Linked DNA regions of Homo sapiens. The protein of the gene in region 1 interacts with the protein of each later gene in a biochemical or structural test. Each region holds a gene or a part of one and is shown in the gene's direction. Other genes may lie near its edges.

The links.
Region 2: of the proteins of CLIC5 (region 1) and SRPK1, one has a biochemical effect on the other in vitro, tested with the Homo sapiens proteins (one large-scale study listed by BioGRID and IntAct).
Region 3: the proteins of CLIC5 (region 1) and EZR form a complex in vitro, tested with the Homo sapiens proteins (one study listed by BioGRID).

Annotation. Positions count from the first base shown.
Region 1 is NC_000006.12:45,904,361-45,907,860, reverse strand, and holds part of CLIC5 (chloride intracellular channel protein 5), read left to right. Parts: intron 1-3,500. UniProt on the Homo sapiens protein: In the soluble state, catalyzes glutaredoxin-like thiol disulfide exchange reactions with reduced glutathione as electron donor. Can insert into membranes and form non-selective ion channels almost equally permeable to Na(+), K(+) and Cl(-).
Region 2 is NC_000006.12:35,834,099-35,837,598, reverse strand, and holds part of SRPK1 (SRSF protein kinase 1), read left to right. Parts: intron 1-2,110; coding exon 2,111-2,295; 3' UTR 2,296-3,500. UniProt on the Homo sapiens protein: Serine/arginine-rich protein-specific kinase which specifically phosphorylates its substrates at serine residues located in regions rich in arginine/serine dipeptides, known as RS domains and is involved in the phosphorylation of SR splicing factors and the regulation of splicing.
Region 3 is NC_000006.12:158,784,869-158,788,368, reverse strand, and holds part of EZR (ezrin), read left to right. Parts: intron 1-1,165; coding exon 1,166-1,261; intron 1,262-2,785; coding exon 2,786-3,060; intron 3,061-3,500. UniProt on the Homo sapiens protein: Probably involved in connections of major cytoskeletal structures to the plasma membrane. In epithelial cells, required for the formation of microvilli and membrane ruffles on the apical pole. Along with PLEKHG6, required for normal macropinocytosis.

The DNA of each region.
Region 1 (3,500 bases):
TCTTTACTGATTATGATTCTATTTCTTGAAAACCCTACAGACTTCACCAAAAGGCTCCTGGAACTGATCAACAACTTCAGTAAAGGTTCAGTATACAAAGTCAATATTCCAAGATTGAATTGGGAAGAAATTGAAACCCTGAACATACTAATTGAGTTATGAAATTGAATCAGTAATTTAAAAAAACCTACCAACCAGTAAAAGCCCCAGACTAGGTGGATTCACAGCTGAATTTTACCTGACATAAAAAGAAGAACCAGTACCAATCGTACTTAAACTATTCCAAAATATCAAGGAAGGACTCCTTCCTAACTCATTCTATGAAGCTAGCACCACCCTGATACCAAAACCTGACAAAGACACAATGAAAAAAGAAAACTTCAAGCCAATATCCCTGATGAACATAGACACAAAAAATTCACAACAAAATACTAGCAAACCAAATCCAGCAGCACATCAAATAGTTAATTCACATTGATCAAATAGGCTTCTTCTTAGGATGCATGGTTGGTTCAACATACACAAATCAATAAATGTTATTCGCCACATAAACAGAATTAAAAACAAAAATGAAATGATCATCTCAATAGACACAGAAAACCTTTGGATAAAATTCAACATCCCTTCATGACAAAAACCTTCAATAAATTAGGCATTAAAGGAACACCCCTCAAAATAATAAGAGCCATCTATCTATGACAAATCTGCAGCCAACATCTTACTGAATGGGCAAAAACTGGGATAATTCCCCTTGAAAACTGCAACAAGACAAGGATGCCCACTCTCACCACTCCTATTCAATGTAGTAGTGGAAGTCCTTGCCAGAGCAATCAGGCAAGATAAAGAAATAAAAGGCATACAAATAGGAAAAGAAGAAGTCACATTCTCTCTCTTTACTGGTGATGTGATTCTATTCCTCAAAAACCCTAAAGACTTCACCAGAAGGCTTCTGGAACTGATAAACAACTTCAGTAAAGTCTCAGTATAAAAAGTCAATGTGGCCGGGCACAGTGGCTCATGCCTGTAATCCCAGCACTTTGGGAGGCTGAGGCAGGCGGATCGACTGAGGTCGGGAGTTCGAGACCAGCCTGACCAACATGGAGAAACTCTGTCTCTACTAAAAACACAAAATTAGCTGGGCATGGTGGCGCATGCCTGTAATCCCAGCTACTCAGGAGGTTGAGGCAGGAGAATCGCTTGAATCCAGGAAGCAGAGGTTGCAGTGAGCAGAGATTGCACCATTGCACTCCAGCCTGGGCAACAAGAGCGAAACTCCATCTCAAAAAAAAAAAAAAAGTCAATGTACAAAAATCAGTAGCATTTCTGTATGCTAACAATATTAAAGTTGAGAGCCAAATCAAGAACATACTCCAATTTATAATAGCTGCAAAAATAAAATAAAATAAAATATCTAGGACTACATCTAACCAGGGAGTTAAAATCTCTACAAGGGGAGCTATAAAACACTACTTAAGGAAATTGCAGCTGACACAAACAAATGGAAAAACATTCCATGCTCATAAATTGGAAGAAATAATATTGATAAAATGGCCATACTGTCCAAAGCAATATGCAGATTCAATGCCATTCCTATCAATCTACCAATGTCATTTTTCACATAACTAGAAAAAACTATTCTAAAAATTCGTGTGGAACCAAAAATGAGCCGGAATAGCCAAAGCCACCCTACGCAAAAAGAACAAAGCTGGAGGTGTCACATTACCTGACTTCAAACTGCACTATAAGGCTACAGTAACCAAAACAACATGGTACTTGTACAAAAACAGACACATAGATGAATGGAACAGAAAAGAGAACCCAGAAATAAAGCCACACACCTACGGTCATCTGATCTTCCACAAAATTGACAAAAATAAGCAATGGGGAAATGACTTCCTATTCAATAAATGGTTTTGGAATAGCTGACTATCCCTATGCAGAAGAATGAAATTGGACCCCTACCTTTCATCATATACAAAAAGTAACTCAATATGGATTAAAGATTTACCTCAACTTGTAAGAATCTTAGAAGAAAACCAGGAAACATTCTGTACATCAGTTTTGGGAAGTAATTTATGATGAAGTTACAAAAGCAATTGCAACAAAAATAAAAATTGACAAGTGGGACTTAATTATACTAAAGAGCTTCTGCACATAGAAACTATCAACAGAGTGAACAGTTAGCCCACAGAATGGGAGGAAGTATTTGCAAACTATGCATCTGACAAAGGTCTAATATCCAGAATCTATAAGGAACTTAAACAATTGAATAAGAAAAAAACAAATAATACCATTAAAAAGTGGGCAAAAGACATGAACAGACACTTCTCAAAAAAAGACATAATAAGTGGCCAACAAACATTAAAAAAAAAAAAAAAAAGCTCAGTATCACCAGTCACCAGAGAAACGCAAATTAAAAGCACAAGGAGACACCTCCCTCACACCAGTCAGGATGGCTATTGTGAAAAAGTCAAAAAGCAACAGATGTTGGTTAGTCTGTGGAGAAAAGGGAACACTTATACAGTGTTAATGGGAATGTAAATTAGTTCAGTCACTCTGGAGATTTCTCAAAGAACTAAAAGCAGAACTATCATTTGACCAAGCAATCCCATTACTGGTTATATATCCAAAGGAAAATAAACTGTTTTACCAAAAAAATTTCATATGCATTCATATATTTATGACAGCTCTCTTCACAATAGCAAAGACATGAAATCAACCTGGGTGCCCATCAACAGTGTACTGAATAAACAAAACATGGTACATATACATCATGGAATACTACATAGCCATGTAAAGAAACAAAGTCATGTCCTTTTTAGCAACATGGATGCAGCTGGAGGCCATTATCCTAAGCAAACTAATGCAAGAACAGAAAACATGAAACTACATGTTCTCACTTATAAGTAGGAGCTAAGCAATAGGTACTCACGGACATAAAGATGGCAACAATAGACACTGGGGACTACTTGGCAGAGGGATGGAGGGGGCAAGTGTAGAAAAACTATGCTCATTATTTAGGTGACAGGACCAATCATACCCCAAACCTCAGCATCATGCGTTATACCCAGGTAACAAGCCTGCACATGTACCCCCTTGTATCCCCCCAAAAAAAAGAGGGAAGGAAGGAAGAGAAGGAGAGAGAGAGTGAGAGAAAGAGAGAGGAAGGATGGAAGGAAGGAAGGAAGGAAGGGAGTAGGGAGGGAAGGAAAGGGACAGAAAAGAGGGAGGGAGGGGAGTCAGAAGTGATACTACTCTCCTGTTACCCCTACCCTAGCCTAGCCTGGAAGGGCTAGAGGAGGACCAGCTAATGTGCAGGCCCTAGTGCACAGTGAAAACAGGGGGGCCCTGTTTAAAAATTATTAAGAATTTCCACACATTGACCCCAGAGCATTAAATCAACAGCAGGGCTCTTCTGAGTGCAAGGTGAGACTGCACAGGTCACAGGTCCATGAAGCTGCCGCAGCTAGAGAGACCTCATTAAAGAAACCATCCTGCTG
Region 2 (3,500 bases), about 10 Mb from region 1:
GCAACAGAGCAAGATCCTGTCTCGGGGAAAAAAAAGAGCAGAGACTGGAGCCAGACTGTCAAATCCTGGCTACTCCACTAGCCATGTGACCTTTGACAGGATCTAACTGTGCCTCAGTTTGCTGATTTCTTAATGGAGATAATAATAAAGTATACTTCTTACTAACAGTTAATATGTATAGTGCCTGCATGCAGTTGGTTGATTACTTCTATAGCACTTCTGAAAAATGGGCAAATTTTTTGCTGGCGTTTGGTCTAAGAACTGCCTCTACCAAAGGGCAGGTAATTTAAGCTTCTTACATAAGGGCAGGGACTACATCTCACTCATCTTTGCATCCCAGTGACACCTAACACAGTCACTCGAAGTACATTAGTCATACAAACGAACTTCACACTTTTTAGTTTTATGTATTTGTTATTACAAAAAAAACCACAAAAACAAAACTTCCAATTTTTGACTTGATAATATATTTCTTAAGCATTGCAAAAAAAACCTGAAATGTGAAAACCTGACCTAGAAGCATCTAGGAAATGGTCTGGTTTTTCTACCCCCATTGTGCCATGGTTCCCTTTTTCCTCACAACTTCTACAGAAGTGCTGAGAAAAATGACTTTTCTCAATCCTTGGCAGGAGCCATCCTCAGAAACATTACCCTTTCTTAAACCTCTTTTTAGGTGGGAAAATTGTAAAATGTTTCATAAGAGTTCCTCCTCATGTGCAGTCAGATTAAGGCATGTGTGTTTACCAGGTAGGTAATCAAATAGGCACTCACTGCTCACAAAAGAGACTTAAAATTTTTATGTTTAAAAAAAATTATTATTATTATTATTATTATTATTATTATTGAGACAGGGTATCACTCTGTCACCCAGGCTGGAGTACAGTGGCACGATCTTGGCTCACTGCAACCTCCACCTCCCAGGTTCAAATGATCCTCCTGCCTCAACCTCCCAAGTAGCTAGGACCACAGGCATGTGCCACCATACACAGCTAATTTTTTTGTATTTTTGGTAGAGGCAGGGTTTCACTATGTTGCCCAGGCTGGTCTTGAACTCCTGAGCTCAAGTGATCCACCCGACTCAGCCTCCCAAAGTGCTGGAATTACAGGCATGAGCCACTGTGCCTGGCCAACTTAAAATTTTAAAGCAGCATTTGCCTTAGCTATTAATAATTGACTATCTTTTAAAAAGTTGTCACTTCAAAGAAGCAATTAGGTTGATACTCCAGTATAGTGTAGAGCAGCGGTCCCCAATCTTTTTGGCACCAGGGACTGGTTTTGTGGAAGACAGTTTTTCAATGGATGGGGGGGTTGGGGGGTGGTTTGGAGATAAAACTGTGTCACCTCAGATTGTCAGGCATTAGGTTCTTTTATGGAACATGCAACCTAGATCCCTACTGCAGTTCACAGTAGGATTCACGCTCCTGTGAGAATCTAATGCAGCCACTGAGCTGACAGGAGGTGGAGCTTAGGCAGTAATGCTTGCTGGCCCACCACTGACCTGCTGCTGTGCAGACCTGACAGACCGCAGACTGGTACCATAGGGGGTATTGGTATAGAGTTGGGGACCCCTGGTATAGAGTATATGAAGCTGTTGTATCTGAAAACTGTGTAGGATTTGGGGTTTTTTTTGTTGCTTTTATCCATGCTTGACATGATGTTTTAACTTTACTGCCTCACTGTAAAGCAACATTTACTAAACTATTGAGCACATACACAAAAAAAGAGTATAAGCAAATTATTCTCGGTATGTGGTACTAGAGTGTCTCTGCACACCATATAAGACCATGTTGAAGACATAGGCATTTCATGTTTATTTTAGTAGTAAATACCTACTTCTTGATTGTCACACCCAGTTTGACTGGGACCAAAAAAATCCTAGAATAGGGGAGAAAACAAATTACCTTAAATTTTTGGAGCCGTATGAAGAATAGAGGCACTTCTTTCTGAGGCATATGTCAGAAAAGAAATGCTTTGTGAATGAAGGATTAGATTCTGATTGCAAAATTTGATTCCTCATAGACTACATGGGTTAGTTTGTGGGTTTCCACAAGAGTACCTTGTCATTTGTCTGTGTTGATCAGTGGCTTTTTCTGTACTGTCTTCACTGCAGGTGACCTGAAACATATCACGAAGCTGAAACCTTGGGGCCTTTTTGAGGTTCTAGTGGAGAAGTATGAGTGGTCGCAGGAAGAGGCAGCTGGCTTCACAGATTTCTTACTGCCCATGTTGGAGCTGATCCCTGAGAAGAGAGCCACTGCCGCCGAGTGTCTCCGGCACCCTTGGCTTAACTCCTAAGCCCCTGCCCAGCACCACAGCAGAGATCACACACTGACCCTCCGCCCTTCCCCTTCAAGCATTTTCCTCTTCCCTTTTCAGGGTGAAGCTCTTCCTTCAAGAGTTTCTAGATCTTGTTTTTTTTTTAATCCAACATGTTCATTTGGGTTTGCTTACTTGACCCTGTGGAGATCCCCACAGCCATTGGGCATCCTAGGTGAATTTGGCCTTGGTTGGGCTCTGCCAAAGACTAATGGACTAAAATGTGAAACAGCCTCTTGCCCTGTACCTTTCCTTCCCATTAGGACATCCTTTAAATTATAAGCATCCTTTTTGAAAAGAGCTATGAAGGTGTATGAGCCCATCCTTTTATTCATTGACTCTAAGAGTCAAATTTTCTAGTGCATATCCTATTGCCAGCATAAGGATGAGGAGGGGGAAAGGGTCTTAATTCTATGTACAGCAGAGACATTAAACTTGCTGTGTCCGGGCTGCATCATCTTCCTGGACTGTTTCTGTTGTTCTCTGTGTTCACATTTTTTCCTGCAACTTTTAAGCTACTGTCTTTTTTAAATAGCTATATGAACACCAAATTTGGGTACCATTTTATCACTGTTCAAAGCACTGTCAAATTCCTTTCATCCTTTAATAGTTAAGATCTTTGAATCTTCAGTCTGATTTTTAATGTAAGCAAAAACAGAACCATTGAATAGTAATTTCTTGAGAACCTCAGGTGTTCTATAAACAGTCCTTTCCTGTATGTCTTCTATTACCCTAAGACCAGAGTTATTTTGGTTGGTTGTTTTGTTTTATTTTTTGTTTTTGTATCCATGGCTGGCACTTTACTCATTGCACTTGAGTTTATTGCCCCATAACTAAAGGATCAGGATGATGGTAGAACGGAGATCTGGGTTTCAGAGCTTTCCCATTTAAGAAAAATAGATCTTGAGATTCTGATTCTTTTCCAAACAGTCCCCTGCTTTCATGTACAGCTTTTTCTTTACCTTACCCAAAATTCTGGCCTTGAAGCAGTTTTCCTCTATGGCTTTGCCTTTCTGATTTTCTCAGAGGCTCGAGTCTTTAATATAACCCCAAATGAAAGAACCAAGGGGAGGGGTGGGATGGCACTTTTTTTTGTTGGTCTTGTTTTGTTTTGTTTTTTGGTTGGTTGGTTCGTTATTTTTTAAGATTAGCCATTCTCTGCTGCTATTTCCCTACATAATGTC
Region 3 (3,500 bases), about 110 Mb from region 1:
AGCTTGCAGCCTTCCCCCATCCCTTTTGGGTGAGTGGGAAGAGGGGGAAGAACAGGTCAGTCCTGGGCATTTAATAAACAGACTTCTAGAGCTTTAGGGAGCCTCTGGCCTCCCTGCACCCTTCAGATGAAGAAACAGGCCCAGATCAGGAGTTAATTTGGAATTTTAGGATTTACTTTAAGCAAATGCTCTGTATACCTGAGTTGTCATTTCTAATGTATTCAACCCTCTTTGGCATTAAATATGATAGAAGCCATGTATTTGAAGGATGGTAGCATTTTTTAAAGTTTAACATTATATATCATGGGATTTTAAATTAGACATCTATGTATATGTAAATAGTCGAACTTGTCTGGGACTCGGTTTAGATGATGTTCAACAAATGTCCACAGCAAGTTCGACTATCACTGCTTTTCTGTTTACAAGACAGTCGTGAGACTAAGCAGCTCAGGACTCCTGTAATGCACAACAGAGGCTTGAAAATGTGAAATCTTTGCTGTGACCTAGGGTCGGGATTCTACCTTTGCTGTATCAGAATGTCCCATTTCTGGAGGTCTATAAGATGCAGGTTCCTCTGGGCACCCCTGTGCATTGACACCCTTCCGTCCCAGAAGTCTGCCTTGCCTGTTTTCCTGCCTTTCCTAGGATTTCTTTGTCCCTGTTCCTAGTAAGTCAGACCCCTGGGCCAGCTGGCTGAGAGGCAGAGGCAGGCAGCCAGAGGAGGCTCAGGTGTGGCACTGGATGCTTTAGTCTTCTGCATGAGCACACCTGACCGGCAGCGATGCACCCACCGCACTGTTCCCTGGGGGGCTGTGGGCTCCCATGGTTCTGTGTGTGCTGGCCATAACCCGCCCTGCTGAGTTTCATGCAGGAGAGCATCCTGGAGTACAAAGGAGTAGGAGTGAGATTTTCTAAGATTTGAAGGTAGAACCCTGAATCTGCTCAAATTTATATTAAAAATAAGTCGTTCATGGCTTTGAGATAATAGCCTCAGTTAGTAACAAGTTATTTGAGTGCAAAAAAAGATGTTGCCCAGTGGTTGGACTGAGCAGATGTCCTGGTTTCCTGGGGACTCTGCTAGACCATGTGATGAACGACAGCCAAAAGCTGTTGCCCTTTTGAGTGAGTTTCTCATGAGTGTTGAGCCTCTCTCTCTCTCACGCAGGTGGTAAAGACTATCGGCCTCCGGGAAGTGTGGTACTTTGGCCTCCACTATGTGGATAATAAAGGATTTCCTACCTGGCTGAAGCTGGATAAGAAGGCAAGTCAGGATTAACTATTTACAGGCTGTGGATTGGGTGTTGGTCTGCTTCATCGATAAGGAAACTGGAGCAACTCACCCTGTCTTTTGTTTTCTGTTCCTTTTTGTTTGTGTAAAAGTTTTTACAGACAAAAAGGTTGCAGGTTTCCAGTAAATGGAGATATCGATTGGAAATCAGATCTGGCATTTCTCCATAGTGCTCACTCATTGGAGCATATGATGGTTAATTGCATAGCTTTTAGTTGACCTTAGTTTTTTCAATGAGATTGTTAATCTTATAAACTGTGAATCATCCACCATCTTGTAAGAACCTGTTATTGCTTTGTTTGAACCTGTGACAGATTATCTTCCAACTTTAAAGAGTGGATAATTCCATTAACCAACCAAAAAGAAAAGTAGTAAGATAAACATTTTCTTCAAACTCTGAAAATTATCCTTTTTTTTTTTTTTGAAACCCCCACTGTCCTCCCAAGTCACAGCAACAAGTTAAAAAGATGATGGGAGGTGGGGAAGAGTGGAGGAGCAGGAGGAATTCTTAACAGTAAGTTTCGGGGTCCAGGGCCCGATTGGCATGTGGCCCCATTCCAGGTCACTGGGGTCATTTCCAAATTTGAGTTCTCCAGGATTGATAGCATCATCCCATGAGGACTGGGGCTTAGTGAGGCAGTAGCTTTGATTTCCAGCTGAGCACAAGAGTGTGATAGTACTTGTTTGTTTTTTGTTGTTGTTGTTTTGAGATGGAGTCTTGCTCTGTCGCCCAGGCTGGGGTGCAGTGGCACGATCTTGGCTCACTGCAACCTCCACCTCCTGGGTTCAAGTGATTCTCCTGCCTCAGCCTCCCAAGTAGCTGGGACTACAGCTGCATGCCATCATGCCCGGCTAATTTTTTTGTATTTTTAGTAGAGATGGGGTTTCACCATGTTGGTCAGGCTAGTCTCGAACTCCTGACCTCGTGGTCCGCCCACCTCAGCCTCCCAAAGTGCTGGGATTACAGTCGTGAGCCACCATGCCTGGCCTGTTTTTTTGTTTTTGTTTGTTTGTTGTTGTTTTTTAAGAAGAGACAGGGTCTTGCTCTGTCACCCAGGCTGGAGTGCAGTGGCGCCATCATAGCTCACTGCAGTCTCGAACTCCTGAGCTCCAGGGTTCCTCCTGCTCAGCTTCTTGAGTAACTGGGACTATAAGCATGCATCACCATCCCCAGCTAACTTTTTTTTAAAAAATGTTGTAGAGATGGGATCTCTTCTACGTTGCCCAGGCTGGTCTTAAACTCCTGGGCTCAAGTGATCCTCCTGCCTTGGCCTCCCAAAGCACTGGGATTATAGGCATGAGCCACCATGTCTGGCCTGTGGTAGCACTTTTGACTAACCTTTTTTTGTCTGGAGTGCTAAAAAGATGACTTTAAGAATAAATATCTCCTGAAAACTGGCTTGAGGGCCCCATTGAGTCTTGGTTAGAAGCCTGTGTTGGGGACAGTGGGCCTTCGTCTTCCGGATTTGTGTGGAGAGTGTGGCTTGTTTCGTGCAGGTGTCTGCCCAGGAGGTCAGGAAGGAGAATCCCCTCCAGTTCAAGTTCCGGGCCAAGTTCTACCCTGAAGATGTGGCTGAGGAGCTCATCCAGGACATCACCCAGAAACTTTTCTTCCTCCAAGTGAAGGAAGGAATCCTTAGCGATGAGATCTACTGCCCCCCTGAGACTGCCGTGCTCTTGGGGTCCTACGCTGTGCAGGCCAAGTTTGGGGACTACAACAAAGAAGTGCACAAGTCTGGGTACCTCAGCTCTGAGCGGCTGATCCCTCAAAGGTGAGCACAGGATGACCCGGCCTGGGCAGGAGCAGTCATGCCGTCCTCGGCAGGGAGAAGTGATTGCCTTAGAAGCACAGTTTAAAAACACAAGGACTTCGCCAGTGTCAAGTGCTCCTTCATGCTAGTCATTAAGTCACTGACCAGCGACCTGAAACATAGCCAGGGAAGGCGAGCTGCCATTCCTCATGGAAACTAAAGCGTGGCCGTGTCCTGTGGGACATGGCATAGCAAACTTCTCGACCTGACTGCTCAGCTCCTCCTGGGGTATGATAGGTTGCCCCTGTGAAATCTGTTTTTATTTAGTAATGGTCACAAAAATTACCCCATTTGGAAGAAGAGGCCACTTAAAATACCTCTTAGTTTTTCCAGCAGAACTGAGTTCTTGTTCAAAATGCTAAGTCTTCCAGATTAACTGTCATAAATAGAAATGCTGCACA